Linked DNA regions of Homo sapiens. The protein of the gene in region 1 binds, or shares a complex with, the protein of each later gene. Each region holds a gene or a part of one and is shown in the gene's direction. Other genes may lie near its edges. The genes, in order: MED1, MED13, MED12 and MED13L.

The links.
Region 2: MED1 (region 1) and MED13 share a complex: the UniProt entries of both Homo sapiens proteins name them as parts of the mediator complex.
Region 3: MED1 (region 1) and MED12 share a complex: the UniProt entries of both Homo sapiens proteins name them as parts of the mediator complex.
Region 4: MED1 (region 1) and MED13L share a complex: the UniProt entries of both Homo sapiens proteins name them as parts of the mediator complex.

The regions. Positions count from the first base shown.
Region 1 is NC_000017.11:39,441,045-39,449,008, reverse strand, and holds part of MED1 (mediator of RNA polymerase II transcription subunit 1), read left to right. Parts: intron 1-1,104; coding exon 1,105-1,211; intron 1,212-5,380; coding exon 5,381-5,459; intron 5,460-7,964. UniProt on the Homo sapiens protein: Component of the Mediator complex, a coactivator involved in the regulated transcription of nearly all RNA polymerase II-dependent genes.
Region 2 is NC_000017.11:62,061,779-62,069,706, reverse strand, and holds the start of MED13 (mediator of RNA polymerase II transcription subunit 13), read left to right. Parts: upstream 1-4,428; 5' UTR 4,429-4,501; coding exon 4,502-4,567; intron 4,568-6,405; coding exon 6,406-6,640; intron 6,641-7,928. UniProt on the Homo sapiens protein: Component of the Mediator complex, a coactivator involved in the regulated transcription of nearly all RNA polymerase II-dependent genes.
Region 3 is NC_000023.11:71,127,955-71,135,918, forward strand, and holds part of MED12 (mediator of RNA polymerase II transcription subunit 12), read left to right. Parts: coding exon 1-166; intron 167-341; coding exon 342-486; intron 487-643; coding exon 644-764; intron 765-1,159; coding exon 1,160-1,261; intron 1,262-1,361; coding exon 1,362-1,475; intron 1,476-1,725; coding exon 1,726-1,901; intron 1,902-2,080; coding exon 2,081-2,260; intron 2,261-3,595; coding exon 3,596-3,667; intron 3,668-4,118; coding exon 4,119-4,252; intron 4,253-4,422; coding exon 4,423-4,584; intron 4,585-4,890; coding exon 4,891-5,002; intron 5,003-5,168; coding exon 5,169-5,258; intron 5,259-6,402; coding exon 6,403-6,512; intron 6,513-6,758; coding exon 6,759-6,894; intron 6,895-7,137; coding exon 7,138-7,299; intron 7,300-7,964. UniProt on the Homo sapiens protein: Component of the Mediator complex, a coactivator involved in the regulated transcription of nearly all RNA polymerase II-dependent genes.
Region 4 is NC_000012.12:115,959,276-115,967,239, reverse strand, and holds part of MED13L (mediator of RNA polymerase II transcription subunit 13-like), read left to right. Parts: intron 1-996; coding exon 997-1,158; intron 1,159-3,720; coding exon 3,721-3,833; intron 3,834-5,841; coding exon 5,842-5,974; 3' UTR 5,975-7,964. UniProt on the Homo sapiens protein: Component of the Mediator complex, a coactivator involved in the regulated transcription of nearly all RNA polymerase II-dependent genes.

The DNA.
Region 1 (7,964 bases):
ACAACAAGTGTAAAAATGGAAACTTCATGAAGTAGGAGTTTTTGTCTAGTTTGTTCATTGCTGTCTTTTTAGCATTTTCATTTATTTATTTATTTATTTGAGACAGAGTTTTGCTCTTGTTGCCCAGGTTGGAGTGCAGTGGCGCAATCTGGGCTCACTGCAACCTCCGCCTCCTGGGTTCAAGTGATTCTCCTGCCTCAGCCTTCCGAGTAGCTGGGATTACAGGCATGTACCACCAAGCCCGGCTAATTTTGTATTTTTAGTAGAGATGGGGTTTCTCCGTGTTGGTCAGGCTGGTCTCGAATTCCCAACCTCAGGTGATCCACCCGCCTTGGCCTCCCAAAGTGCTGGGATTACAGGCGTGAGCCACTCCGCCCAGCCAGCATTTTCATTTATTTTTTTTCTTTTTTTTAAATTTTCCTCTCTAGCCCAGTTCAATAACTTTTTTTTTTTTTTTTTTGACACAATGTCTCCCTCTGTTGCCTAGGATGGAGTAAGTGGTGTGATCAAGGCTCATCACTGAAGCTTCGACCTCCCAGGCTGAGGTGATCCTTCTGCCTCAGCCTCCAGAGTAGCTGGGGACTGACTACAGGCACATGCCAGGAGGCTTGGCTAATTTTTTTCTTTCTTTTTTTTTTTGAGACAGTGTTTCGCTCTGTTGCCCATGCTGGAGTGCAATAGTGTGATCTCGGCTCACTGCAACCTCTGCCTCCTGGATTCAAGCAATTCTCCTCCCTTAGCCTCCCAAGTAGCTGGGATTACAGGCATGCACCACCACATCTGGCTAATTTTGTATTTTCGGTAGAGACAGGGTTTGACACTCCAGCCTGGTCATCAAGAGTGAAACTTAGTCTTTAAAAAAAAAAAAAAAAAGGTGGATAGATAACAGTCCAGTGGTATGGTATTCCTTACATCAGACCCATAACTTGTGTGTCATCTTGCCATTAAAAATGTCTTCTTTGGATGTTTTGAAGTAAAATGATTTTGGAAAATATTTTAACTGAATTCTTACTGTGATGAAGTGTGGGAATTTATTTTGCAAGGAAAACTGTGGATGGTCTTGATAGAACAGTTACTGATAACGTTTTCTGATTTAAATCATAGAGTCAGAAAAGCTGAGTAAGATGAGTTCTCTCCTGGAACGGCTCCATGCAAAATTTAACCAAAATAGACCCTGGAGTGAAACCATTAAGCTTGTGCGTCAAGTCATGGTAAGGATTGTGGTGAAGTGGGTAAAGTGTTTTGCTTAGATAATTATTCTTAATACGCTAAGCTCCCCATGTAGATGTGTTCATACTATCTTCATAAAACATCTGAATACATGGTGGTTTCAACTTTAGGAGTCTATTGTATCTATACTACAGGTTGAATATCCCTTATATGAAATGCTTGGGACCGGAAGTGTTTTAGATTTTGGATTGTTTTGGATTTTGGAATATTTGCAAATATATAATGAGATATCTTGGGGATGGGACCCAAGTCTAAACACATAATTTATTTATGTTTCATAAACACCTTATAGATATAGCCTGAAGGTAATTTTATACAACATATTTAATAATATATTTAATACTTTTGTGTGTGAAACTAAGTTTTTTTTTGTTTTTTTTTTTTATTGAGACGGAGTTTCACTCTTGTTGCCCAGGCTGGGTTGTAATAGCCCGATCTCGGCTCACTGCAACCTCTGCCTCCCAGGTTCAAGTGATTCTTCTGCCTCAGCCTCCCGAATAGCTGGGATTACAGGCATGCGCCACCACGCCCAGCTAATTTTTATATTATTTGTAGAGACGGGGTTTCTCCATGTTGGTCAGGCTGGTCTTGACCTCCAGACCTCAGGTGATCCACCTGCCTTCGCCTCCCAAAGTGCTGGGATTACAGGCGTGAGCCACCGCGTCCAGCCGTTTTGACTGCATTTTGACTATGACCCTGTTATGTGAGGTCAGGTGTGAAATCCTTGGTGGCATCATTGGGAATGCTAAAAAGGTTTTGGATTTGGGAGCATTTCAGATTTTTGATTTTCAGATTAGGTATGCCCAGCCTGTACTAGTAGAATTTTTGATTCATTCTTTTTTTTGAGACCAGGTCTTATCATCCAGGCTCAAGTGCAGTGGCGCGATCATGGCTCACTGCAGCTTCAACTTCCCAGGCTCAGGTGGTTCTCCCACCTCAGCCTCCTAGTATCTGGAACAACAGGTGCATGTAACCATGTCCAGCTAGTTTTTTTTTTTTTTTCTTTGAGATGGAGTCTTGCTCTGTGGCCAGGCTGGAGTGCAATGGTGCGATCTCGGCTCACTGCAACCTCTGCCTCTTAGGTTCAAGAGATTCCCCTGCGTCAGCCTCCCGAGTAGCCGGGACTACAGGCACACGCCACCACGCCTGGCTAATTTTTTGTATTTTAGTAGAGATGGGGTTTCACCATGTTGGTCAGGATGGTCTCCATCTCCTGACCTCGTGATCTGCCTCCCAAAGTGCTGGGATTACAGGCGTGAGCCACTGTGCCCGGCTGCCCAGCTAGTTTTTTATATTTTTTGTAGAAATCGTTTTTTTTTTTTTTTTTTTGAGATGGAGTGTCGCTTTGTCACCCAGGCTGGAGTGCAGTGGTGCGATCTCGGCTCACTGCAAGCTTTGCCTCCCGGGTTCATGCCGTTCTCCTGCCTCAGCCTCCCGAGTAGCTGGGACTACAGGCCCCTGCCACTATTCCCGGCTAACTTTTTGTATTTTTAGTAGAGACGGGGTTTCACCGTGTTAGCCAGGATGGTCTCGATCTCCTGACCTCGTGATCCACCCGTCTCGGCCTCTCAAAGTGCTGGGATTACAGGCGTAGCCACTGCGCTTAGCCAGAAATAGGTTTTTACTCTGTGGCTCAGGCTGGTCTCAAACTTGTGGGCTCAAGTGATCCACCCACTTTGGCCTCCCAAAGTGTTAGGATTACAGTGTGAGCCACCGTGCCTGGCGGATTCATTTTTTTTTTTTTTTTTTAAAGATGGAATCTCTGTCTGTCACCTAGGCTGGAGTGCAGTGGTGGGATCTTGGCTCACTGCATCCTCCGCCTCCTGGGTTCAAGCGATTCTCCTGCCCCAGCCTCCTGAGTAGCTGGTATTACAGGCATCCGCCACCATGCCCAGTTAATTTTTGTATTTTTAGTAGAGATGGGGTTTCACCATGTTAGCCAGGCTGGTCTTGAACTCCTGACCTTGTGATCCACCTGCCTCAGCCTCCCAAAGTGCTGTGATTACGGGTGTGAGCCCCTGTGCCTGGCCCAGGTTGTCATTTTTATTCCTTAAGGCAACCAAATTCTAGCTTGAAATATGTTCTGTAAATGATACTGTCATTAGAGAGACATTGTGAGATAGAAGGATTCCAGGTGGCTAATAAGGCCCTCTCTTTGGGTACCACTCTCTTGGTTTGGTCACCATGACTTTGCTTGTCTACTTTTCAGTTTTGCAGATTCAGAAACCTAATTTTATTGGTACATCAAGATTTTATAGAGTTTTCATGGCTGGGCGTGGTGGTTCACATCTGTAATCCCAGCACTTTGGGAGGCTGAGGCGGGTCGATCACCTGAGGTCAGGAGTTCGAGACCAGGCTGACCAACAAGGTAAAACCCTGTCTCTACTAAAAAGACAAAATTAGCTGGGCATAGTGGCAGGCGCCTGTAGTCCCAGCTACTCGGGAGGCTGAGACAGCAGAACCGCTTGAACCCGGGAGGTGGAGGTTGCAGTGAGCCAAGATCATGCTACTGCACTCCAGTCTGGGCATCGGAGCGAGACTCCATCTCAAAAAAAAAAAAAGAGTTTTCAACAACTGACATACTGTATGCTTATTTATTAATTTATGACAAAACATTTAGTTTTCCAGTTTTCATAATACTGGTATTCATTGACCAGAGCACCTCTTCTCCTGTCAAGAATCAAGAGATTTCAGATTATTAATAAATTACTTTGTTTTGTAAGGGAGAATTAGAGCAGTGAGATAGATTTATTTGCAACATGGAAAAGCCTGGAAAACTATCCTTATACCAGAAAACTGTTCACGTTTTTAGGGACTGGAATGTTTTTCAGAGAGAAACTTCTTCACTGGATAGGGTTAGGAAAACTAGGCTAAGTTTTTTTTTGTTTGTTTGTTTGTTTTGTTTTGTTTGAGATGGAGTCTCACTCTGTCACCAAGGTTGGAGTGCAATGGTGTGGTCTTGGCTCACTGCAACCTCTGCATCCCCGGGTCAAGCGATTCTCCTGCCTCAGCCTCCTGAGTAGCTGGGACTACAGGCGCGTACCACCACACCTGGCTAATTTTTGTATTTTTAGTAGAGATGGGGTTTCACTATGTTGGCCAGGCTGGTCTCGAACTCCTGACCTCATGATCTGCTCGCCTTGGCCTCCCAAAGTGCTGGGATTACAGGCGTGAGCCACTGCAACCGGCCTCAAACTAGGCTAAGTTTTTGTTCTTTGGAAGTCCCTTTTCTGGACTACATGTTCTGTTTCTTTTCTTTTTCTTTTTTTTTTTGAGACAGAGTCTCTCTCTGTCGCCAGGCTGGAGTGCAGTGGTGTGATCTCGGCTCACTGCAACCTCCGCCTCCTGGGTTCAAGTGATTCTCCTGCCTCAGCCTGCTGAGTAGCTGGGACTATAGGCGTGCACCACCACGCCCAGATAATTTTTGTATTTTTAGTAGAGACGGGGTTTCACCATTTTGGCCAGGATGGTCTCAGTCTCTTGACCTCGTGATCCACCCGCCTTGACCTCCCAAAGTGCTGGGATTACAGGTGTGAGCCACCGCACCCAGCCTATATGTTCTGTTTTTTAGAGTCAATCTCATTTTCTTAAAATTTGGTTGTGTTTCTCAGATTACATGCAAATCACCTTGTTAAATTTGTACACTACCAAATCTCCTGAGCCATCTTATTTAACTGTTTATATCTTAGCATGTGGTCACTTCCACAGGCGGCAGATCTCATGTATTACATTTTGATTCTTCCTAATATTTCTCTAAAGGTTTTTTTGTTTTAGATGTGGAAATACAACGTTTTCTTTTTTGTTTTTGACTAAATAGAAACAGGATCTCTCTATCTTGCCTTGGCTGGTCTCGAACTCCTGGACTCAAGTGATTATTCAGCTTTGGCCTCTCAGTGTGCTAGAATTACAGGCATGAGCCACGTGCCTGGCTGAGGAATACCTTTTTCTACACTCATATATATGGATTTTGCATGGATGGACAGAGTAACACTTGTAGACCAGTGTTACTCTATATAGTCTACAAAATCTATAGACTATATTGAGTCTATAGACTGTCCTGCAATATTACTACTAGGATAATGTGTATGTTTACCTAAAACACTGTTGGCCTGGTTAATTTTCACCTCAAATGTTTTCCCACTTGACACAGGAGAAGAGGGTTGTGATGAGTTCTGGAGGGCATCAACATTTGGTCAGCTGTTTGGAGACATTGCAGAAGGCTCTCAAAGGTTTGTGAACACTTTTGAAATATGCTGATTTCACAAAACCCCCAGTTCAAGAAGGACCATTTTATACTTAAACTAGAAGTAAAAAATTGAGGTAGGTCAACTTTATGTATTAGATATTGCTCTTGCATTCATTTATGGAGTTGGAATGATCTTTTTGCTAAAGTTTGAAACATTTATTTTTGATCCTGTTTTGGAGGCTGATAGAGATTTAAAAGATAAATGATGAAGGGTAATATAAGATACCTGGGGAGGCTGGGTGCGGTGGCTCGCTCCTGTAATCCCAGCACTTTGGGAGGCTGAGGTGGGCGGATCACAAGGTCAGGAGTTTGAGACCAGCCTGGCCAACATGGTGAAACCCTGTCTCTACTAAAAATACAAAAATTAGCTGGACGTGGTGGCGGGCACCTATAATCCCAGCTTCTCGGGAGGCTGAGGCAGGAGAACAGTGTGACCTGGGGAGGCGGAGGTTGCAGTGAGCCAAAATCACGCCATTACACTCCAGCCTGGGCAACAGGGCAAGACTTGTCTCAAAAAAAAAAAAAAAAAAAAAAAAGATACCTGGGAAAAGTTTTTTTTCCCTTCACATTTATTTCTGATTAATCTCGATAAGAAGATGGACTTTTTTTTTTTTTTTTTTTTTTTTTGAGATGGAGTTTCACTCTTGTTGCTCTGGCTGGAGTGCAGTGGTGGAATCTCGGCTCACCACAACCTCTGCCTCCTGGGTTCAAGCGATTCTCCTGCCTCAGCCTCCCAAGTAGCTGGGATTACAGGCATGTGCCACCATGCCCGGGTAATTTTATATTTTTAGTAGAGACAGGGTTTTCCATGTTGGTCAGGCTGGTCTCGATCTCTTGACCTCAGGTGATCTGCCCACCTTGGCCTCCCAAAGTTCTGGGATCACAGGCGCGAGCCACAGCAACTCGCGAAGTTTTTTTTTTTTTTTTTTTTTTTCCGAGACGGTGTCTCACTCTGTCACCCAGGCTGGAGTGCAGTGGCACAATCTTGGCTCACTGCAACCTCCACCTCCTGGGTTCAAGCGATTCTCCTGGCTCAGCCTCCCAAGCAGCTGGGACTACAGGCGCGTCCCACCACGCCTGGCTAATGTTTTGTATTTTTAGTAGAGATGGGGTTTCACCGTGTTAGCCAGGATAGTATAGATCTCCTGACCTCGTGATCCACCCGCCTCGGCCTCCCAAATTGCTGGGATTACAGGCGTGAGCTACCATGCCTGTCCAGAAGATGGACATTTTAACTCTAAAAAGATTTTTACGGTGTTTATGGAGCAAATTTCCAGGAAAGCAAATGTAAAATATAAGTCATGAGCTTGATTATTCATGCTTATAATGACTAATTCTATTTTTGGGGAATAATGAAAGTAAAAACAGATTTTACTGTGATCCACCAGAAATGAACCTAATTCAGCTGAGGGTTTTTTTTTTTTTTTCTGGAGACAGTGTCTCACTCTGTCGTCCAGGCTGGAGTGCAGTGGCACGATCTCTGCTCACTGCAACCTCCGTTTCCCGGATTCAAGTGATTGTTCTGCCTCAGCCTCCTGAGTAACTGGGATTACAGGCGCCCATTACCATGCTCAGCTAATTTTTGGATTTTTAGTAGAGATGGGGTTTCACCATGTTGGCCAGGGTGGTCTTGGACTCCTGACCTCAGGTGATCTGCCTGCCTTGGCCTCCCAAAGTGTTGGGATTACAGGCGTGAGCCACTTTGCCCAGTCTCAGCTGAGTATTATCTTCTTTACCTTTTTTTGTTTTCTTTTTCTTTGAGACAGAGTGTCGCTGTGTCACCCAGGCTGGAGTGCAGTGGCACGATCTCTGCTCACTGCAACCACTGCGCCCCCACCGGGTTCAAGAGATTCTCTTGCCTCAGCCTCCCGAGAGGGTGGGATTATAGGCGCGCACCACCACACCTGGCTAATTTTTGTATTTTTATTAGAGACAGGGTTTCACCACGTTGGTCAGGCTGGTCTTGAACCCCTGACCTTGTGATCCGCATGCCTCGGTCTCCGAAAGTGTTAGGATTACAGGCGTCAGCCACCGCACGAGGCCTTTTTTTCTGTTTTAATTGTGGTAAAATATAGGTAACAAAATTTACCATTTTCTTTGTTTCTAAGTGTATAGTTCAGTAGCGTTAAGTACATTCATATTATTGTATAATCATCACCACTGTCCATCTGTAAAACTTCACTCATCTTCCCAAGCTTACATTCTGTAATGTCCCATTCCCGCCTTCCCCCAGTCCCTGGCAGCCACCATTCTGCTTCCTGTCTTTATGAATTTGACTACTCTGTATACCTGATATAAGTGGAATCATATATTTGTCCTTTTGTGACTGGCTTATTTCACTAAACGTAATGTCTTCAAGGTTCATCTATTTTGAAGCATTTATTAGAATTTCTTTCTTTTTTAAGGTTGAAAAATACTCCTCTTTATGTATATACATTTCATTTATCCATTCATCTGCTAGTGGACACTTGGATTGTTTTAACCTTTT
Region 2 (7,928 bases), about 23 Mb from region 1:
AGCATGGAGTTCTGCTTGTTTGCTTGCTTTTTGAGACAGGGTCTCACTCTGTCACCCAGGCTGGAGTGCAGTGGTGCAATCTTAACTTCCCAGGCTTAATCAACCTCCCCACCTCTACCTCCCAAGTAGCTAGGACTACAGGCACGTGTCACCACGCCCGGCTAATTTTTTTATTTTTTTTGCAGCGGGGGGTTTCGTCATGCTGCCCAGGTTGGTCTCAAACTCCTGGGTTCAAGCAATCTGCCCACCTCAGCCTCCCAAAGTGCTGGGATTACAGGCATGAGCCACCGTGCTGGGCCAAGTATGGAGTTTTGACCCCAGTTGGTCTAACTGTTCAAGTGCCATTATAAGCAAGATTATGAGCTGCTTGTATATGCTGTATTTTGTCAATACATGACCTGACACATACTAGATGGTTAATACATGTGGGTAGTTAAGTGGTCATATAGTATGATCTCAACCATGTAGGAAAAAGATACATAGGGAAAAGTCAATACATCAAAATGTTAAAAAGTGATTAATTATGAATGGTAATGATACGGACTTTTTTGGGTAATGTACATTTAAAATTTTCATCTTTACGCTTTTATGTATCTGCCAAACTTTTGACAATGTGTGTGTAATGTTTTTATTTATTTATTTTGAGATAGAGTCTCACCCTGTCACCCAGGCTGGAGTGCAGTGGCGTGATCTTGGCTCACTGCAACCTCTGCCTCCCGGGTTCAAGCAATTCTCCTGTCTCAGCCTCCCAAGTAGCTGGGACTATAGGCATGTGCCACCACGCCTGGCTAATTTTTGTATTTTTAGTAGAGATGGGGTTTCACCATGTTGGCCAGGCTGGTTTTGAACTCCTGACCTCAGGTGATCCACCTGCCTCGGCTTCCCAAAGTGCTGGGATTACAAGCGTGACACAGCACACCTGGCCGACAATATGTGTGTAATGTTTTTAGTTATTTCCATTACTTTTTAAAAATCCCATATAACTCCTGCCCCCACACATACACAGCCTCCCTCATTATCAACATCCCCCACCAGGATGGTATACCCAAAGTCCGTATTTCCATTACTCTCTTTTTCTTTTTTTTGAGAACGGAGTCTCACTCTGTCGCCCAGGCTGGTGTGCAGTGGCGCGATCTCAGCTCACTGCAAGCTCCGCCTCCCGGGTTCACGCCATTCTCCTGCCTCAGCCTCCCGAGTAGCTGAGACTACAGGCGCCCGCCTTTTTGTGTTTTTAGTAGAGACAGGGTTTCACCGTGTTAGCCAGGATGGTCTTGATCTCCTGGCCTCATGATCTGCCCGCCTCGGCCTCCCAAAGTGCTGGGATTACAGGCGTGAGCCACTGCACCCGGCCTCCATTACTCTTTAAATCACACAAAATGTCATTTTTACCGAATGTAAGTGGTTACTGATACGTTCTTTGTGGGCTGAAAATATTTATTTCTTCTCTTTCCCTTCTCCCAATGATTCCATTCCCCTCACAACTGGGATCCCCCCCATTCTAATCTGCTTCTCCATTCTCTCAGTCCTGTCTTTCTCTCTCTCTCCTGCTCCCTTCTGCGATCCTCCATCAGACTTTTTCTTCTGGGTCTTCCTCCCTTCTTCGCTTCTGTCTCCTTGTCTCCCTCTTCTTTTTGAAAAGATTGACATTCAAACAGAAAGGTCAATCAAATGTTACCTCCTACTGGTAGGTTTCAGGTATATTCTACCTGCCATTGGAATCCTGAGGATGGTGCTCAAGTCAGGGGGTGGGGGCAATGGGAGGGCAAGACTTCTAAGGAGAATGGAGACCCCTTTAGATGTGAGGAGGGCATTTCAGCCTGAGGAAAGCAGCGGAACAAAGATCTGAGGAGTTTTTCAGGGAACGGGAAATGGGCAGAGGAGCGCTTACCTCATTGGATCTGGGGATTGCTGTCTCCTGGTGCTGGCACTCGGTTATAAAGGATGCCAACCTTAGTTGATTTGAGCTCCTGGATTGAATTAGTCCTGGTTGCATAATTGACTTTGATATGTGGACTTTGGGTTCGAATTAGGTTTAATAAGATTTAACTGCTTCAAAGGGCTTTATAAGAATTCATTTTATCCTTCAAATCTGATTTCAAATGCTACCTACTTTATGACAACTTCTCTAAGTTTGATGCTCTTCTTCTAGTGCACTTACTATGCCATAGTAGGTACATACTTTATTCAAGCAATTACCCCCATTGTATTTTACCTTATTCTGTAGGAAATGTTTCCTTTAGTGCCTCTCTTCAGGAATCTTGAGGGACAGGCAGGTATCTTATTCCTATTTGTATCCTAGGCCTAGCACAGAGCAGGAACACACTCAATTGAGCCAGCAGGTTCTCAATGATTTTTAAAATTACATTAATAATTAACATTAAGTAAGCACTGTGGCAAGCACTGTATCTACATTGTTTCATTCACCAGTCATTTTAGAAGAAAAGTACTTTTATTACCCCCATTTTACAATAACCGAGAGAAAGCAAAATTAATTTGATCTAAGGTCAAATATGATCTAAGACTAACTAGTGAGGGGCAGAACTTTTTCTCCAGGCTTTGGGCTTCAGATCTGGGCTCTTCACCACCACAGATGAACAAGTGGATAAATGAGGACTTCTTTTCATTCCGTGGCTGAAGAAGTGACATGGAAGAGTCTACCATTCATTTTACAGATACAATTATGTATCTGTAATACATAATACATAATTATGTATCTGTAATACATAAAATTACAGTAAGTCCTAACTCACTGATGTTTCTAACTTCTGAATCATCTTTTTCTTCTTCTTTCTTTCTTGCAATCCTAAAACCGTCAGAGAAACTGTTTTGAACTCATATTGAAGTGTAACCCATCCAAGCACTGGGTGTTTTATGGGAAAGAGAATAAACCTTTTGTTTGGTTCTTACTTCTTACCACCCATTCATTTGTAACTATACAAATATCAAGCACCTACTGTGTGCTAGGAACCTTTTTTTAGGCACTAGAGAGACAGAAGTAAACAACAAAAAAATAGTGAGACCTTTACATACACTAGTTCTCCTGCTCGTCACAATAACTATATGAGGTAATGATGACAACAATAATAGTTAACTCTTAACAGTGCTTATCTGTGCGGGGCACTGGGCTACCTGCTTAATTTGTATTAACTCATTACAATAAGCTTGTGGGGTAAGGGATATGTTTTCCCCATTTTACAGATGAGTAAAGACACAGAGCAGGAAGTGATTTGCTCAAGCTTGGAACCCAGGCAGTGTGGCTCTAATTCCCAGTCTATTAACTACAGGGCAATATTTTGTTTCTTAAATTTATATCTTCATATCACAACTTTTAGGTTGAGGAGTCTTATCCCCATCCAGATCATCTGACTCCCAAATCCAGAGGTTTGCACCTGCACCCCAGCGGCCTCGCGAAATAAATGAGAATGTCTTGGAATTTTTGCCAATACTTTCTCTTCCAAAGAACTCAAACTGATTTCCACGTAATTCTCACTGATTTGTGAAATGAACCTTCCTGGACTGTAAATTTCCCCGCAAAGAGAGGGCCAGGGCCCCGGGTCGTTTTATACTGGCCGGGGCACCCAGCAGATGGCGCTATGTTAGTGGCCACCAGCTGGCTGCCCCGTCCCCCGAGCTCACCGCCTCCGCCGAAAGCTTCCCGGCCCTCCCTCGCTCACTTCTCTCTCCCCCTCCCAACCGAGCCCGGGCCCACGTGACCTCAAGGCGGCCAATGGGTGAGCAGAGAGGGCGAGCTGGTCCCTGTGGCCGCCATTAAAGCGAAGGGAAAACCCGTGAATTCGGATTAAAGGGGGAAAAACACCGCCCGCTGGGCCCACAAAATGGGGGAGACTACGGCGTCCAGCCGGTGAGGCCACAGGAGGGCAAACTTTAGGCCGGCTTGGCCCAGGAACGACACGAAGACAGAGCCAGAGAATGGTCTGAGCCCGCAGACGCCGCCACCACCTCCGCCGCTGAGGAGACTCTGGGCTTAAGGACATCGCCGCTGCCGCGCCGGGGGCCTGGGCTTCTCTCCCGGTTCTCGCCCTTCCCGCTCCTGTGCGGGCGCCTCTCCGCCCGGGAGAACCGTCCTGGGCTTGGGCTCTGCCGTCTCGGACTTGATTTTGATTATTTATTGTGTAATTTATTATTTTTCTTGTGGTAGGGGCACACATCCCCTCCGTCCCCCAGAGAGGGACGAGCGTCTGCGGGATCCGCAGTCCGGCCCGCCAGGCGAGCGCGGCGCGGCCCTCCCGCCTCCGGCCCTCGGCCCCGGGCGGCTGGGTGCCGGCCGGGCGGCGGGGGCTGCTCGCGGCGGCGGCGGCGGCGGCGGCGGCGGGGGGGTGGGTGGGGAGGGCGGGCGCCCGGCGGCCTCCTCTTCCACCGCCCCCCCAACCACTACCCCCCCCCCGGCCCTCCCCGGTGTCTGTGTTTCTCTCTCTGGTCGGAGGCGGCGGTAATGGCGGATGGTGGGTTGTGGCGCCGGCGGCGGCTGCTGTGAGGGACGATGAGTGCCTCCTTCGTGCCGAACGGGGCCAGCCTGGAAGATTGTCACTGTAACCTCTTCTGCCTGGTGAGTGCCGGGGCCGGCGGGCGCCGAGGGAGGGGGGCCGCGAGGTGCGCCCTTGGGCCGTGGGGGAGGGGGCCGGGTCTGGTCCAGATGCCCGAGTTCCCGGGCGAGGCCCAGCCGGAGCCGGCGCCCTGCGAAGCTCCGCGGCCAGCCCCGGGAGGCGGCGTTCGCTCTCCTACGGTCCCGGGCTCTGTTTAGGGGAGTGTTGGCATTTTTTCTCGTCTTGTTTCGGACTCTCCTTCTCACCGTAGTCTCGTCCTCAACTTGAGCTCCTTATCTGGCAGGACAGTAACCTTTCCCTCTTGTCTTGCTTAACTGTTGCTTTTCTCCTTATTGGCCCTGTATCCCTGCTTCACACTTTACATTATTGCCCCTGCTCCCCACCGCCTTTATGTCTTACCCTTTTAATTTGGTTTCCCCATGTAAACAGGACCCCAGAACTTAAGCCCTAGAAACCTGTCTTGGTTTTACATTTTTTTTGTATGAGTCAAACTAACGCCAGGTTAGTTTCTTTCTTGGGTGACTTAAGATCTCTCTGTAAAAGCCAGTAGGTGCCATTTCATATGTTTTCTTTTTAAACTTTGAAAACAGTTTGCCATTTTTGACAATTTCTAGCCATCTTGCTTTTATTAGAACATGATGTTTTTGTGAGAGTGAAGGGGGCTAGTGGACGAGGTGCTGTGGTTTTGCACTGTTTCTATATTTATTGTGTTTTGGTTGCTTTTTCAGAATGTTTTGAGCAGGCTGCTCCCTTGTTTGATTGAAATGGAAAGTCGAGAGAAGCGGGATGTAGGGATGATCATTGTGTAGGTTAGCCCAGGTCTGGTAACATCCAACAGTTAAGGCTTTCAGAAGTACCAACTGTTGCAAATAACTTGTCCTGTATGGGACAGTAGCTGAGCTTCATCAATGACTTTAAGTTTGGGTGACTTTACTTTTTCATTTTCTCCTTTGTGCTATGAGAAATATTAAGAGTATATGATAGGTAAGTGAGTTAAGTGGGAGGAGCACAACTAGTTGGCAAGTGTAAACTGCCAGTCATGTATCAGCAGTTTCATTTTTGGCACCTTATGCTTTGCTCCTTTAAGTTAGATTAAATTACTGAATTCCTCTTGTCGAATTTCTTAACGCCCATGCTAAATTGAGATCTTTAATACTCTATCCTCGTCTACAGTATGTTTTTCTTTTCAATGTCCATTAATCAGCATCTCTTCACATGTAATAAGACATACACCAGGTTTTATATTTCTATCTTATCCAACTCAGTCTATTTTTGGTACTTTTAGGATCAGTTCTTTGAAGATAGACTAGCACAAATCTGACAGTTCTTTGTGAGTAGCTATTTGACTTTTCCGACAGGGGTGTGTGTGAAGAATTAACATAGATTTTTTCAGAACTTGTTCAGATGTCTTTTCATTAGAGACGTTACTTCTGTAAATGTGGAATAAAAACCCATGATAGGGTCTTTAATAATTGATTTTCAGTTAAAAGTTTGACACCAGTGAACAAATGTGACCAGTTAGGACAGAGAAAAATGTACTCTGTTTGCATATTGAAGTGTGTGTCTATATTTAACATCATTCAGTTTCTTCTGTTTCTACTTGGAGTACATATTTGCTTGCTATTCAGTGACATGGTGGTGGTAATTTTTAACTGTATTCTTCTCCCTAAAATTCTTGGTTGTTGAATTATAAAGTCTTTTTTTGTTCTAATTTGCAGTCAATATCTCAAGCATACATTGAAAAATTGTAATGTCTTAATGAAATAAGAGACATCATATTGAGTACTTTTGACTTTGAGTGAATATGCAGTAATAAAACTTAATGCTTTCTTTCCTTCAGGCTGACTTGACAGGAATTAAGTGGAAAAAATATGTATGGCAAGGCCCAACTTCTGCCCCTATTCTGTTTCCTGTGACAGAAGAAGACCCCATTTTGAGCAGTTTTAGTCGCTGCCTTAAGGCAGATGTACTTGGTGTTTGGCGGCGAGATCAAAGACCTGGAAGAAGAGAATTGTGGATATTTTGGTGGGGTGAAGACCCCAGTTTTGCTGACCTTATTCACCATGACTTATCAGGTGAAAGAAACTTTCCATTTCTAACTAATGATATAGCAACATTGTATACTTCTCCCAGAATGTCATATGTATTACAAATTAAGTTTGTTTTTGTGGGAGACTTAGGAGGCCAGATAAAAATTCAGCTTCATTGTTTTATTTCACCATGATTATTTTATTTTACTTAAATTATCCATGTTGTTATAGCTGGGTTTTTAAGGCGTGAATGACTTTCTCCTTCCACCACCTCTCTTCTTAATTTCTCACAGGTAGTTAGGGCCCGAAGAAGGCATGTTACATTAATCTAAAAAAATGGAATCAGGAAACAGAGTTCCTAACAAAGTCGTGTAATAGTTTAGAAGCCAGATGTAACTTTTGAGTCACTTCAGCCACTGCTGAAGTTGAGTCTTTTGCATTGAATAGGCAGATGATTCTAAAAGTACTGGAAATGTAACTATCCGTGTGTGTGTGTGTGTGTGTGTGTGTGGTGTGTGTGTGTGTGTGTGTGTTTTAAGGCATGTATTTTGTTATTGTCATTTGTGCTATTTGATTAACTTATGAAGGCATATGTTAATTTAGTTATTTTTGGAAAGTGACTCATATACTGTTCTGTCAAACATAATAAGAGAAAAGTGCCAACTTGTTTAGCTTTTATGGGACATGGGATCATAATCTAAAAGGTTACACAAACAATTTTATTGTGAGCAAATCAATGTGATTACTTCCTTATTTTCTTGACTTTTAGGACCAAATGCTACTTTAGAAAGAGAAACTATAGCTTTTCATATAATTACTGAAGCTTTAAATTGTGAAAGTCAGTATTAACTGAATCTTAGATAATAGGAATATAAATGATTGGTTGTATGCTATAAGGTTCCAAAGACTTCAGTAAGATAGTTTGATAATGATTTTTGACAGATAAACTTAGGATTTCTAGATAATTTTTTTTAAGTTCTTATTTGAAATTGAGTACTCTGAAGTTTTTGTTATTGTATCTCTGACCTATAGGATCTATTTTATTTTTGGATAGAATGTATTCTAGGTGTCTGTATCTTGAACTGGTACTTAGTAAGACCAACATTTATGTAGGAATGTACGTGTTACATTTGTATGTTTTGATAATTGCTTTTCACATTCTAATGAACATACTCTCCAGTGTTAATTGTTATTTTTGAGAGTGACTGCAATTCTTCAAGAAAGCTTTCCAGCTTTTGTAGTTTTTCTAATAAGATGCCTGCTGCAGAGTCCAGTCCTTAGTTGTGTGTATTTAATGTAGTTCTAAATGTGTAAAGTGATGTGTATATGTATA
Region 3 (7,964 bases), on another chromosome or scaffold:
TGCGCTGGGCACCTGAGTTCATGATCGACACTCTAGAGAACCCTGCAGCTCACACCTTCACCTACACGGGGCTAGGCAAGAGTCTTAGTGAGAACCCTGCTAACCGCTACAGCTTTGTCTGCAATGCCCTTATGCACGTCTGTGTGGGGCACCATGATCCCGATAGGTATGGGGTGTACTGAGTGAGGAAGGGCACCATGCCCCCATCTGAGATAGGGAGGGCTGAGGTACCCGGGAGGTACTACAACCTTGATTATTTAGTGGGGCAGAGATGAGAAGTTAATGGGTCTGAGGTTTTGTGGAGCAAGGTTTTTCCTGAGGGCATTTGTACTTTTCCCTAGGGTGAATGACATCGCAATCCTGTGTGCAGAGCTGACCGGCTATTGCAAGTCACTGAGTGCAGAATGGCTAGGAGTGCTTAAGGCCTTGTGCTGCTCCTCTAACAATGGCACTTGTGGTTTCAACGATCTCCTCTGCAATGTTGATGTGAGACTTGGGGTGGGGTTTTGCTAGTGGGGCAGTGACCAGGGCAGGGGGCTGGTTGTGATCCTCTGACCAGGGACAGAGTTCCGTAGAGTGGAGGCACACCGCTTTGAGTGGGCCTCCACACTGAGTCATGGTGTCTGTCTGTTTTTTCCTCCAGGTCAGTGACCTATCTTTTCATGACTCGCTGGCTACTTTTGTTGCCATCCTCATCGCTCGGCAGTGTTTGCTCCTGGAAGATCTGATTCGCTGTGCTGCCATCCCTTCACTCCTTAATGCTGGTGAACTACCAATCTGTAACCCCTAGCATTTCTAGACCTCAAATTTCAATACACACTGGACGGCCATCCTCTCATTGTTCACTGTGGGAGACCTTGCTGCGGCTCCCTGGCCTTCCTCAGAAGGCCAGTCCTTTGGTATGCTGAAGGCTAGAAGAAACCTGTTTTTTAGCCCTGGATTTGCAGCCCTGACCTTTCCAATTTCTGACCCTTCAACTGCGTAACAGTTCTCTGCTCTACCTCGCTTTCAATATTATCTTGCTTTTTCTCCTTTCACTTTACCTCATCTTCTCTCCCATGCCCCTGCCATACACTTGCATGCATGCAGGCACGCACACACATAAACCCACATACAGTTTAACTTCATCCCTTCCAGATCTGTTTTGTCTTCCTTTTAGCTTGTAGTGAACAGGACTCTGAGCCAGGGGCCCGGCTTACCTGCCGCATCCTCCTTCACCTTTTCAAGACACCGCAGCTCAATCCTTGCCAGTCTGATGGAAGTAAGTGACCCTGATCTGAACCAGCCAACAGTAGAAAGTGTGGTTCCCCTGCCTCCGTGGATTCTACTTTTGCTTCCCCTGACTTCATCGCCTTCCCCAGACAAGCCTACAGTAGGAATCCGCTCCTCCTGCGACCGCCACCTGCTGGCTGCCTCCCAGAACCGCATCGTGGATGGAGCCGTGTTTGCTGTTCTCAAGGCTGTGTTTGTACTTGGTACGGGGGTAGGAAGGGAGTGGTGCCAGAAGTGTGTATAGGGTGGAGTGCCAGCTAAACTACAAGGGACAGTCTTTCTCCCTTCTGAAGGTGGTCTCTCTGACCTTTGGGGAGGAGGGGAGGGAGAGAAGTATATTTCTGTCCCATAGGGCAGGATTTGGGGTGTTTCTACCTCTGTGGGCCCAGGGTGGGTCTCCACACGTGTTCCAATCTCACTCTGCCCTCCCTATCTCCCACCCGTGAACCACAGGGGATGCGGAACTGAAAGGTTCAGGCTTCACTGTGACAGGAGGAACAGAAGAACTTCCAGAGGAGGAGGGAGGAGGTGGCAGTGGTGGTCGGAGGCAGGGTGGCCGCAACATCTCTGTGGAGACAGCCAGTCTGGATGTCTATGCCAAGTACGTGCTGCGCAGCATCTGCCAACAGGTCAGTTTCACCTTCCTCCCACACCTCCTAAATGCCTCTGTGTAATATAGTTCTGTTTCCAGCCCATGATCACACCAGCTCCCTACTATACATTGTGTTCCTTAACAACTCCAGCCCATCCCCCATATTCCTAACCCCCTCACTGGTTGTTCCCAGTCCCTGATTGTCAGCTTCCTCAGGAATGGGTAGGAGAACGTTGCCTTAAGTCTCTGTGTGAGGACAGCAATGACCTGCAAGACCCAGTGTTGAGTAGTGCCCAGGCGCAGCGCCTCATGCAGCTCATTTGCTATCCACATCGACTGCTGGACAATGAGGATGGGGAAAACCCCCAGCGGCAGCGCATAAAGCGCATTCTCCAGGTAGGCCAAGGCCGTGGGGGCTGTGGAGGAAGCAGTGGGCCCAATCTGGGGAGAAACAATAGGAACCTTGAGAAAAGGAGAGGGGCAGTTAAGTAGAGAGGAAGACAAACAAGGATATAGGGGAGGGGAGAGGTAGCGAGAGAAACAGCTCCAGCATGGGCTGAGGAGTAAGTCCAGTAGGGTCTAGACTCCAGTGTAAGAGTATTAGGTGAGGGCATAGCTATCTGGAGTGAATCTAGCTTATCAATGGGAAGCATAGCATCTGGGAGGCCTAGGTGTGGGCCGTGTATATTTGGCATTTTGGCCATGGCTCAGGAACTGAATAGTAATAGCTACTACTTGCTGAGCATGTGCTTTGTGCCAGGTACTGTGCTAGGCACTCTGCACACATTTCCTCATTTAATCTTTATGACCCTATGAAGTAGGTGAGCCTCCCTGTTTGACCGATGAGGAAACTGAGGCTTGAAGAGGTTAAGTAACTTGTCTAACGTCACATAGCCCATAAGTTTAGAGTCAATATGTGAACCCAGACATGTCTGTGCACTTTCCTCTTCACATTGCTTCACACCTTCAGATGACCAGAGAGTGGAAAAATAAAGCCGTTGAGGAAAAGCTAAAGGAATAAGGTCTCTTCAGCCCAGAAGAGATAGTGTTGAAGAGAGATTAGCTAACAGTAGCCTTCTGGTCTCTACAGGACTTTGAGAGATTGTCTTATAAAGGTTCTGTCAGGGACTTTGAGCAGCTGGTCTAAAACAAGAGAAGCAGGCTTCAACTTTAACATCAAGGGTTTCAAGGTTAAGCATTAAGCAGAACTTCCTGATACGAAGGGATGGGAAAGATGTGAAATCTTTCCTGAACTATTTTAAAAATTGGAAAGATTTTCAACTAGTTTGGACTATTTAAATGTAGTCTTTTTTTTTTTTTTTTTTTTGAGACGGAGTCTCGCTCTTGTCGCTCAGGCTGGAGTACAGTGGTGCGATCTCGGCTCACTGCAACCTCTGCCTCCCAAGTTCAAACAATTCTCCTGCCTCAGCCTCCTGAGTAACTGGGATTACAGGTCGCCCATCACCACGCCCAGCTAATTTTTGTATTTTTAGTAGAGATGGGGTTTTGCCATGTTGGCCAGGCTGGTCTTGAACTCCTGACCTCAGGTGATCCGCCTGTCTCAGCCTCCCTAAATGTAGTCTTTCTTAAAGATGGGGACATAGAGGTCCCTTTCAGACCTCCAGGAGTCTGTGATTCAATGTTGCAGGAGATCAGGAATTGGCCTCAGATTGTTGGGTAGCTGGGGGTAACACGATGATGACTAGCCTGGGTGTGGGGCCTCTATCACAGAACTTGGACCAGTGGACCATGCGCCAGTCTTCCTTGGAGCTGCAGCTCATGATCAAGCAGACCCCTAACAATGTGAGTAGTGCCTGGACCCTCCCTTTCCTGTGCTCACGTTCAGCTCCATGTGTCAGGGAGGCGGTCCACCACAGAAGAACCTAGATCCTACCCTTGGGCTCTTGAGCTGAGAGATAAGAGGGGATGGGAAAATGGTGAACAAGTGGAGCTGATGATAAGGGAAATGGGTTGAGAGTGTTGGAGCTCTGAGCTGTGGGGAAGCTTGGTGGTGGTGGTGGAGCCTGTTTCTCTGGCCATAGATGTAAGGAGGTATGTAAAGGAGAAGACAGTGAGGAATTGGAGAAATATGGAGGTACTAGAGGGCATGATTCCCAACAGAGTTGCGTTCCTATCTCCCCATCAATCTCCGCCAGTGTTGTCCTTCTCCGTCATCTCCGATCTCTCCTACCATCTGCTTTCCTTCACCCTTAGCTACCTATTTTAGCACTTCTGTGCCTTTCATCCTCCCCAGGAGATGAACTCCCTCTTGGAGAACATCGCCAAGGCCACAATCGAGGTTTTCCAACAGTCAGCAGAGACAGGGTCATCTTCTGGAAGTACTGCAAGCAACATGCCCAGCAGCAGCAAGACCAAGCCTGTGCTCAGGTCGGATAGAAACATGTTAGGACCCATCCCCTTAGGAGTTTATCTGCTGGTAGCGTGAGTGATATCAGATGCGTGGAGATGCCAGCATGTCCATCAGGGAAAGGAGAGGATAGATTGTTCCAGCCTTGCCTGGCTCCCCTGTGACCCTGTGTCCTCTGTCTGTTCTCCAGCTCTCTAGAGCGCTCTGGTGTATGGCTGGTGGCCCCCCTCATTGCTAAACTGCCCACCTCAGTCCAGGGACATGTGTTAAAGGCTGCTGGGGAAGAATTGGAGAAGGGTCAGCACCTGGGTTCCTCTTCACGCAAAGAACGTGATCGACAAAAGCAGAAGAGGTAAAGGGGCTTAGGGAGTGGACCAAGATTGAGGGGTAGAAAGGAGAAGAGGCAGGCCCGGGGAAGAATAAAATGGGCCAAGGAGAAGCATCATAGGAAAGTGGAAAATCAGAGGATAAGAGTGGGCATGGCTGAGCAAGAGGCTAGATCTTAAGAGAGTAGTCTGGAGAATGAGGTTGGAAGTTGACTCCCAACCCACAGTCTCCCTTTTCTCCTCTCCTCTTCTCTCCTCTTCTCTTCTCTTCTCTTCTCTTCTCTTCTCTTCTCTTCTCTTCTCTTCTCTTCTCTTCTTTCTCTTGTCTCTAGCATGTCCCTATTGAGCCAGCAGCCCTTCTTATCGCTGGTGCTAACATGTCTGAAAGGGCAGGATGAACAACGCGAGGGACTCCTTACCTCCCTCTACAGCCAGGTGCACCAGGTACAGATCTCTGGGCCATGGAGGTGGGCAGGAGGTCAGGGAAGGATGCACCTAAGGGGTTACTCTGTACTTGGAAACTTCAGTACTTTCTGATAAACATATTGGCTGCTGTGGGATGGAAACACGAAGATCCCTGAGCTGCATATTTTATTTGTTTCTATTCTAGATTGTGAATAATTGGCGAGATGACCAGTACTTAGATGATTGCAAACCAAAGCAGCTTATGCATGAGGCACTCAAACTGCGGCTCAACCTGGTGAGAAGGCCAGCTGGGGAGAAGAAGGAAGAGGGTAGGGCTGGAAATGCGGAGTGCAAAAGCCTCAGGTTGGGGAGAATGGGGGTAAGGATAGAGGCCCCAGGTTATTCTGAGTCTTGAAGGGTTTTTTTTTTTTTTGGAGTCAGAGTCTCACTCTGTCACCCAAGCTGGAGTGCAGTGGCGCCATCTCAGCTCACTGCAACCTCCACCTCCTGGGTTCAAGTGATTCTCGTGCCTCAACCTCCTGAGTAGCTGGGATTACAGGTGTGTACCACCACACCTGGCTAATTTTTGTATTTTTCATAGAGATGGGGTTTGACCATGCTGGTCAGGCTGGTCTTGAACTCCTTACCTCAAATGATCCGTCTGTCTCGGCCTCCCAAAGTGCTGGGATTACAGGCATGAGCCACCGTGCCCAGCCTGAGTCTTGAAGTATTAACCTTGTTCTCTGAAAGTATGCAGGGACTGAAAGTGGTTAAGGGGGCTGGATCACTGTGGTCATGGTCCAATAGGTTATGTACCCTGGATCCTTGCAGGGCCTCTGCCTCAGTATCCTAGATTCTGACTGGGCCCTAGAAGCACTGGAAACCCACTGTGGAATGTTGAATGGAATCCTGGAAATCATTCTGTCCAATTCCCATCACTTTCTAAGTATGGAAACAGAGGCCTAGAGACGTCAAGAATTCCGTCATTGTCTTGAGATCATGTAGCAAATCATAGGCTCAACTCAAGCATGGCCGGGCGCGGTGGCTCACGCCTGTAATCCCAGCACTTTGGGAGGCCGAGGTGGGCGGATCACGAGGTCAGGAGATCGAGACCATCCTGGTTAACACGATGAAACCCCGTCTCTACTAAAAATACAAAAAAAATTAGCTGGGCGTGGTGGCAGGCGCCTGTAGTCCCAGCTACTCGGGAGGCTGAGGCAGGAGAATGGCGTGAACCCGGGAGGCGGAGTTTGCAGTAAGCCGAGGTCGCGCCACTGCACTCTAGCCTGGGTGACAGAGCGAGACTCCGTCTCAAAAAAAAAAAAAAAAAAAAACTCAAGCATGAACTCAGGCGTCCCAACTCAGATTGGAACTAAGCTTTCCTGAAACTCTGGCCTTTGTCCCTGAGCCATCTGACTGACTTGTTGTGGCCCTGGCAGGTGGGGGGCATGTTTGACACGGTGCAGCGCAGCACCCAGCAGACCACGGAGTGGGCCATGCTCCTCCTGGAGATCATCATCAGCGGCACTGTCGACATGCAGTCCAACAAGTAAAGCATCCCCACCCGCTCCCTGCAGTTTCATACCCAAGAAGCTCCCCCTACTCCCATGCCAGGTGCACCCACTGAGATTGGTGTGGCTGTTACTGTGGACTCCGTGGCCCTGGGCTCCCCATACAGTTTTGGTGCCCTTGGGATGACATATTAAGCACCTCTCCCTGCTTGTGTCCTCTGCTGAGGCCTTTTTCTATCTTCACCTCTTTCTTCTTTGGTTTTCTCTCTGGCTTCCTGTCTCAGTGAGCTCTTCACTACTGTGTTGGACATGCTGAGCGTGCTCATCAATGGGACATTGGCTGCAGACATGTCTAGCATCTCGCAAGGTAGCATGGAGGAAAACAAGCGTGCATACATGAACCTGGCGAAGAAGTTGCAGGTAAGCAGAGGAAGCGGGGGCAAGGTTTGCGGTTACTGGAATCTGCTGTCCAGCCTCAGGAACTTGCTTCTGGCTGGAGCCCTCTACCTTTCCTTCTCACGTCTGCCTTTTCTTTGTTACTCATGCCGTGAGCATTTACTGAGTGGGGGTCTTCTCTGTGCCAGGTTCTGTGCTGTCCCCTGAGACTTCCCATCCCTGTTTTCTGTATCTCTGAACTCTTGTCCCATCTTCCTGTGCCTGCAGAAGGAGTTGGGGGAGCGCCAGTCAGACAGTCTGGAAAAGGTTCGCCAGCTGCTGCCACTGCCCAAGCAGACCCGAGATGTCATCACGTGTGAGCCACAGGGCTCCCTTATCGATACCAAGGGCAACAAGATTGCTGGCTTCGATTCCATCTTCAAGAAGGAGGCATGTTCCATTGTCTGCCCGTGTCCCTTGCCTTTTTTCCCCTTTGGGCAAGAACTTTGCCTGCATCAGCTTTGTAGCTCCAACAGACTCATCAGATTCAGGAGCCCATCAGTCTCTGCCGGTGAACACCATCTCTGGGGTTTTGAGCAAATCACTTAACTTTCCTTACATTTCATCTCCATCTTTGAAGTCCCACCCTCTTTCCTTCACCCTGCCCTCACCTTTTAACATACCACCCATTTTTCAATACCCTACCCTCCTCTTTCCTCTGCTCCACCTGCCCCATGTCCTACCCCACCCATCTATCTGGCCGACAGCCTGTATCTCTTTTATTTCTGTGTTTCCCTACACCCACCCATCTCTGCACACTTTTATCTTTTCCCTCTCTGTCAGTTGCGGTATTTGTTGAGTAACCATAATTATTGTGTATAGTTTAAAACCCAAAGTCTAACTCCTTCATATATACATTCTCTTCATCTGTCTTCCTAGTCCATCTGTCTCTTTTCCTCCGTCTCTGTCTCTCTCCCTGTCTGACTCGTTTGCCTTTCTTTGTCTCTCCACCTTTTTGTCTCTCTCTTCCTGTTTCTTTCTCTCTCTGACTCTTTCTCGGCCTGCCTAAAGGCAGAGTCTCTCCCTGCCTTCCTCTCTCTCTTTCTCTGCCTTCC
Region 4 (7,964 bases), on another chromosome or scaffold:
TGATGTAGTAGCTGCAGATTATTTTTTCCTTCCAAACAGAAGGTTTTTTTTTTTTTTTTTTTTTTTTTTGAGACAGAGTCTCACTCTGTTGCTCAAGCTAGAGTGCAGTGGCATGATCTTGGCTCACTGCAACCTTTGCCTCCTGGGTTCAAGGGATTCTCCTGCCTCAGCCTCCTGAGTAGCTGGGATTACAGGCGTGCACTACTGTGCCTGGCTAATTTTTGTATTTTTAGTAGAGTGGGGTTTCACCATGTTCGCCAGGCAGGTCTCGAAATTCTGACCTCAAGTGATCTGTCCGCCTCAGCCTCACAAAGTGCTGGGATTACAGGTGTGAGCCACCGCACCCAGCATAAACAGAGACTTTTAAAAACAAATGCATTACTTATTGCTTGCATGAAAGGTACATTTTCAATTGATGAAGCTAGCTAAAAGAATTAAAAGATAAGAAAAGTGTCAGTTGCAGCAAAACATAGCCTCTTCCAGGAGTCTCTTATTAAGGGGAATGCTGCAAATGAAAACATGGCTTCTCTGTGAGCAGATCTTGCACTACTGGCAGCTCAGGAACTTTTGTGCTGTGCACATACTGGTGTCACATTGTCCTGGTCAGGCTGGTGCGCTTGTGTGTCTTTGGCTGGTTGCTGGTGAAAGAGCACCTGCGTGTGGTAGAGCCTTCTGCTGTCAGAGATTGTAATCTTTCCATTTTAGTTTGTTACATCATAATGCCATGAAATAGATCTTACATCCCTTAGAAAAGAAACCCAAGCAAATAAATCTGTACTTACTTGACTGAGGCTGTCAGTTTTGCTGGTATCTTCTCTATGTGTGCAGCAAAGACGATGCTGGCCCCGCTTACCTTTCTCAGTCACCTGTTGTTTTCTGTGAGATGCTGCCACAAAGGGGATCACTCACTGCAGTGTGCAGAGTGAACTGATGAAAGTTCATTTTTCAAGCTTTAAGATAAATGCTGATCATGTTTTTGGGATTTTTGTTTTTCAGAGCCAGGGTGAGCGTCTTCTTTCTAGAGAAGCACCAGAGGAGCTAAAGCAGCAGCCCCTGGCCCTTGGGTATTTTGTATCAACTGCCAAAGCTGAGAATCTTCCCCAGTGGTTTTGGTCATCGTGTCCCCAGGCTCAAAACCAGTGCCCTCTCTTCTTAAAGGTTGGTTTGGTGTCATATTAGAAGTTTGCAAGGAATGAGTGATTTACGCTTAAATTTAATTTTGGTTAGAAATTTCAGTTTTAGTCACCATAATCTTATTCTGTTCCTTTTTTCTCTTGTATCTACTTATACTCTGAGGAAATTTTAATTACAGTTGTAGGTGGAGAGTAGAATTTAGGAGGACCCAAAACCATGTCACAAAGAAATGAATCACTGTAGCCCAAGGAGGAAACAGTGGGGCCCAGAGGGTAAATCTAGGATGGATGCATGGGGTTCAATGTGATGGTCTTTCTCCAAGTCTATATTGCATCACTATCAGTAAAGTTAAGCCTGTGTCGAAGGTATAATAACCAGCCATCCTCTTCTTCCCCTGCCAGGGACTCTTCACATTCTTCATTAGAGAAGAGTAAGAGTCAGCTAAAAACATCGCACATTTACACTTGCTCCTTCCTTTATATTTCTTGGAACCTTTTAATCCCAATTTTAAGGGTTCAAAACAAAAGATCCCCTACTTGCAGTTTATGTTAAAAACAGCAATACCTAGAATGAAATCCATCTCTTGCCCACAGATTGGCAAAAATACAAAGATTTGGCAGCATACTGTGTTGGCCAGATGTGGGGAGCAGGCCCTGGTGTTGGTGGGATTGCTGAATGATATAGCCCTACACACTTCCCTTTCAGGGCAGCAATCCCACCTCTAAGGAATAGCCCAAAGGTTCTTTGCCAAAACAGAAAATGACATATGTCCAAGACTAGAAAGAACCTAAGTGTCATCAGTGAGGGACTGATTGAATCAACTGTGGTGCATCCAGACAGTGAAATATTAATCATCTACAACAAAATGGAGACCATTTCTATGTAATCATTCTGTGGAGTAGAGATTACCATGGAGTAATCTATAAGATATGCACATTCACACACATATACACGTACACACATAGCTGTGTATATTTTCAGAAAGAAACGATGGAAATTAAACCAAAAACTTATTAGACAGTGAAGCAATGTTCTTTTCCTAATGACTTTAACATACTATTATAAAATCAAAGAAGGTTTATAAAAATGCATGTGTTCTTTATTTTGAATTAGAATTATCAATATGAGCATAGATTTATTTTTCCTCTCTAAAAAAGTATACACATTTTTTTAGCTCTGTCTGCTGAAAAAGCTTAGCAGCAATAAACACCTCTGTTGCCACGAATGTGGTTCCTGCACACCGTTGTCATTTAAAGGAACTGTGGTTCTTTGAAGAGATGACTGATTCCAGATATGCAGCAGGAAATATTCACAATGAACCTGAGGCATCTTGTCACACCTAAAAGGAAGAAAGTTACCAAAGATTATTATGGTCCAGCAGGGCCTCAGGAGCCATCTTAGGGGGCAGCTCTGTTGTCCAGGGATAGGATGGGACAGTGTGATCATTAAAAAAAATGATGACAGTGATAGAATGAAACAAATCCTTGGTTCATAATTGTGTTGGAAAACAAACAAAAAATCAGTCATCATTTGTTGCTAGAGCATCAACTCAGTCTGAAAAATAAAAAAATAAAGAGAAAGAAGCATTTATATGTTGCCTCTCCTTTACATGTAAAGTAATACCAAAACCATTAGGTGAAAAGTTGATGAGGAACTTTATGATGGATGTAGTGTCCTGGTATCACCTGAACCCAGTGATGAATCATGTGACTTCAAGTGGGACAGTAGACATTTCATGCCTTTAATCATTTGTCATGTACAGATCATGTTGGCTCATGATTTTAGTAAACCAATTATAAAAAGACATTTTTGAGATAATGGAGCATTATCTTCCTCATTATCCTACAGATGGGGTGATAATATTAAGGAATCATTGTTAATTTTTCTGTGATAATTACTGTTATGTTTAAAGGTCCTTATGTGAGACATCTACTGACTTTTTACAAGCAAAATAATACAATATTTGTTTTTTTGTGGGGAGGGTTTTTTGGGGGTTGGTTTGTTTGTTTCTTTTTTTTGGAGACAGAGTCTTGCTCTGTTGCCCAGGCTGGAGCACAGTGGTGCAATCACAGCTCACTGCATCCTCATCCTCCCAGGCTCAAGCAATCTTCCAGCTTCAGCCTTCTGAGTAGCTGGGACTACAGGCACACACCACCATGCCCAGCTATTTTTTTTTAATGTTTTATAGAGATGGTAATATTTGTGTTTAATTCAGAAAAAGAAAATGAAAACAGAAAAGTGGTGAATATTGATAATTGTTGCATCTTGGCGATATCAATTCATGGGACCTTATTATATATTATAGTATTTTTGTGTGTGCTAGACTATTTCCATTGAAGAAACAAAATGTAGTAGACAAAAAAAGCCCAAAAAGTTTGCTTTTTTTTTGTTTTTTTCCAACTCTAGGATAAGAAGTTATTTGGGATTACCTTGGGGGTTACTGAGCAGGTTAAAATTTGTAGACTCACAGAAACCCTGACTTCTACGGACTTTTGGGAGCATCTGCTTCTGGCAGACATGGCCTCCCTCACTTCTGCACTGTGATTGTCTAGACCAGAGAGGTAACTCTCTTTGTTTTTTCACCAGGCTTCGCTGCATCACCACATTTCAGTAGCACAGACAGACGAACTTCTGCCTGCCAGGAATTCTCAGCGGGTTCCACACCCTCTTGACTCCAAAACCACGTCGGATGTTTTAAGGTAGATACCAACCTAGGCATCATAGCAGTGCAATTTGAAACAATATTCCTTTACTGTTGTCTTTCCAAGGTGTTTTAATCTAAGTGTGGTATTCATAGAAGCTGCCGTTTGTGCAGTGATACAGTATCTGATGAGTCAGTGAGAGCTGCAGTCCCTCATAGCTGCATGGGACAGGCGGTGTAATACATTGGATTCAGTTAGGCAGTGATAGGCATTTATAGTTGCCTTTGCTTCCTGTTCAGAGCAGGCACTTCATGGTGATGAAGAGAGGTCAGATCTTGGGGGTGGATAGTTAGAAGACAGTGTCTGGAACTCTTAAAGCACCTCACATTGAAAACACTTTTTATGCTTCCTGAGATAGATTATGTATTTTTGTTTGTTTATTCGAGATGGAGTCTCGCTCTGTCACCCAGGCTGGAGTGCAGAGGCGTGATCTCAGCTCACTGCAAACTCCGCCTCCTGGGTTCATGCCATTCTCCTGCCTCAGCCTCCCAAGTAGCTGGGACTACAGGCACCCGCCAGAATGCCCGGCTAATTTTTTGTATTTTTAGTAGAGACGGGATTTCACCGTGTTAGCCAGGATGATCTCGATCTGACCTCATGATCTGCCTGCCTCAGCCTCCCAGAGTGCTGAGATTACAGGCATGAGCCACCGATTATGTGTTTTTTTAAAAATGGACTAGAACATAAATGACATAGTTGAGAAGTGCATTCCAGAAGTGTGTATTAATCAAGCCACAGGCATTCTTCATCTACCTTGAGAAAATATACAGGCCTTTTCTAATGTTTTCTAACTCTTAAATGGTTAGGAAATGATAGGAAACTATATATTATAGATTAATGTATAATTATAGTTATGGATAAAAATAAAGAACCTGATCAACATAAATTTGGCTTCCAGGCCCCCTAGAGCAGGGGTCCCCAACCCCCGTCCATGCCTTGTTAGGAACCAGGCCCCACAGCATGCGGTAAGTAGCAAGTGAGCGAGCATTACAGCCTGTGCTCCGCCTCCTGTCAGGCAATGACATTAGATTCTCATAGGGGCACAAACCCTATTGTGAACCGCACATGCAAGGGATCTAGGTTGTGTACTCTTTATGAGACTCCTAATGATTTAAGGTGGAACAGTTTCATCCTGAAACCATCCCCCACCACGTGGAAAAATTGTCTTCCACGAAACTGGTCCCTGGTGCCAAAAAAGGTTGGAGACTGCTGCCCTAGAGGAACACTGTCCAATAGAAATACAATGTGAACCTCAAATCTAATTAAAATTTTTCTGTTAGCCACATTAAAATAGTAAAAAGAAACTGGTTAATTTTAGTAATATATTTTATTTAACTCAATATACTCAAAATGTTATTTCAACATGTAACAATATAAAAATATTCATGAAATATTTTACATACTTTTCTTTTTTTCGTTTTCTTTTTCTTTTTTTTTTGGAGACGGAGTCCTGCTCTGTCACCCAGGCTGGAGTGCAGTGGCATGATCTCACTGCAACCTCCGCCCACAGGTTCAAGCAATTCTCCTGCCTCAGCCTCCCAAGTAGCTGGGATTACAGGCATGCACCACCACGCCTGACTAATTTTTGTATTTTTAATAGAGATGGGGTTTCACCATGTTGGCCACCTGGTCTTGAACTCCTGACCTCAGGTGATCCACCCCCACCTCGGCCTCCCAAAGTTGCTGGGATTCCAGGCGTGAGCCACTGCACCTGGCCCCTAAGTGTTTGGGCTCCAGTGCCTACTTTACCTGCAGTCCACGCAAGTTCCTACTGGCCTCACTGGCGGAGCTCAATGGCCATGTGTGGCTGCTGGCTACTGTACTGGATAGTCCATATCTAGAAGGAAGGAGGAACATGAGACAAAGGATGAGGGAAAGAGCCTGGGGCAAGTTAAGGAATGCCTTTGAGACCTCCTTCCTGCTAAGATCTGGAATGTATTAGAATCTGAGAACCAGCCTTCCCTCTTGAGGCTCACGCCCCTGCTCTGTGTGTTCTCTTTGGCAGGTTTGTTTTGGAGCAGTACAACGCTCTGTCCTGGCTCACGTGCAATCCGGCCACCCAGGACCGTACTTCCTGCCTTCCCGTCCACTTTGTGGTGCTCACTCAGTTGTACAATGCCATCATGAATATACTTTAATTGGAAAAGCACTTGTTCTCTCTGGCTCAGTTCCTTCTCCCTGCAACCTCAGTCCAAGGAACCTGCTACACTCTGCAAATAACCCACATCCTTTTCTTCAGACCACTCTCCACAGTCCTGCACTGTGATTCCTTCTCAGCAGGCACATGTCAATTCTGCAGTGTTCATTACCAGAGTGACTCCTTGACACTTCTCTCATGGACCTGGAAACTTCCATAAGTGGTGACTTTCAGCCAGTGCGGTGGTGTGTGTAGCCCCAACCACTGGTCCCCAGGAAGTGGTGGTGGTTGATGGCTTTTCAGCGGGAAACAGAAGAGACAGTGTCCTTTTGCACAAGAGTCTGTGTTTTCAGCCTCTGTATACAATTGAGGGCAGTCTAGCCCTTTGGATGAAATCCTCTTAGTTACTGGTGTATGGCCTGTGGGTTACCTGAACTCCATAATCTGGGACTTTTTAAAAATAAGAACCAGCTCAAGTACATGGTTTCATACTGGGGTTTCTGTCTCCCTAGTGTTCCCATCCAGATTAGCATGAGTGCTTTGGTTGACTTCAAACCTGTGTGTCAATGCAGAAGGTCTGGAGACAGCTTCATTTTGTTTATTTATTTTAATTTGTTTTGTCATATGGTTTTTGTGACTTTATTTTTTTAATTCACAAGGACCAGGTACAGTAGCTGAAACCCAATTCAGATCCACCATAGGATTCTTTGACTACATACCTCTGTCCTAGAAGCCGGAAAAGGAGTAAAAACACATTGGGGAGATCATGCCTAAAAGTAATATATTCAAAACCACCCAGCAGTAGGTTTTGTTAACAACAAACTGGATTTTAAAAGTTCTGCCATGTTAAGTGGCCAGCATTTCATGAAGGATAACATTTTTATACAGAAGGCAGTCAAGCTCAACTCAGAGCCATGGAGGCAAGTACCTTAATTAGTTTTATATAGTCACAACGGAAATATATTTTCTAGTGAATTCTTATTGGAAGCCAGGTCTCTCCTCTCATTAGATCAAAAGGGACTTATGTACATACAACAATTGAAAGTGTTTGCTCATGAAATCAGTTATAAATATGGTGAATTTTTTCTGGACCATAGGAATATTATTTCAAAGAAATATTACAACTTAACCATTAAATTAGTACTTGAAGTTGAGCCTTTGTGGTGGGACTTTTTAAAAAAATGCCTTTTTAAAGCATTAATGGCTAATTGAAGTATTTTATGACTCCTCATTCCTGGCCCAGAGGGTTGTCTTTGAAACCCTGTTTCTAACCCTTGTGTTGTGTGTTTCTGTCTGAGGACAGTGGGTGTGTACTGGCCTCCCGGGAGCCACTGTGACCAGGCCTTTGAGCTCTTGTCATCTGTGGAGAGAATCATGCAAATTTTAAAAGTTCTTCCAAGAGACTTCCATGTCCTGGTTATTAACAAAAAAGGAAAAATGTAATAATTGATATGATTTTGTAAAAGTATTTTTCTTGAAATAATCTAAAGTTTAAAACATTATATTAAAAAAAAAGTTGTGTGGTGGGAATGTGAAAGCAGAGAAATAACTTGTAAATGGATAATTTTGTTCTCTGTACCACCAGTTGAAGGGGGGGTTGACTTTCGCAATGTATAGGATAAAAAATCTGATATATCAAACCATTTGTATCTAATGTGTACAGTGTAAAATTGACTTTAAAAATATTGCAGTGCTATTTTTTCTTAATCAGAAAGGAAAATTCTCAAGGCCTTTTGAAGAGCATAAGAAGATGAAGATTGTAAACTTGTATAAAATTATCTTGGTGAGAAGACAAATTGTAAAGTAGATATTTGTAATCTTTTACCACTTTGGGGTTGCTTTTTTCCCGGAATTCATCAGAACTTTGAATTTTTTTTTTAAATGGGCTGTTTTTAATGCAGGGGCTTTTCTTCCCTAGAAACCCAATTCTAAGCAGAAAAAGAAAAAAAACACAAAAAATAAAAAACCCCTACAAAAAAACTTTAAAAAAA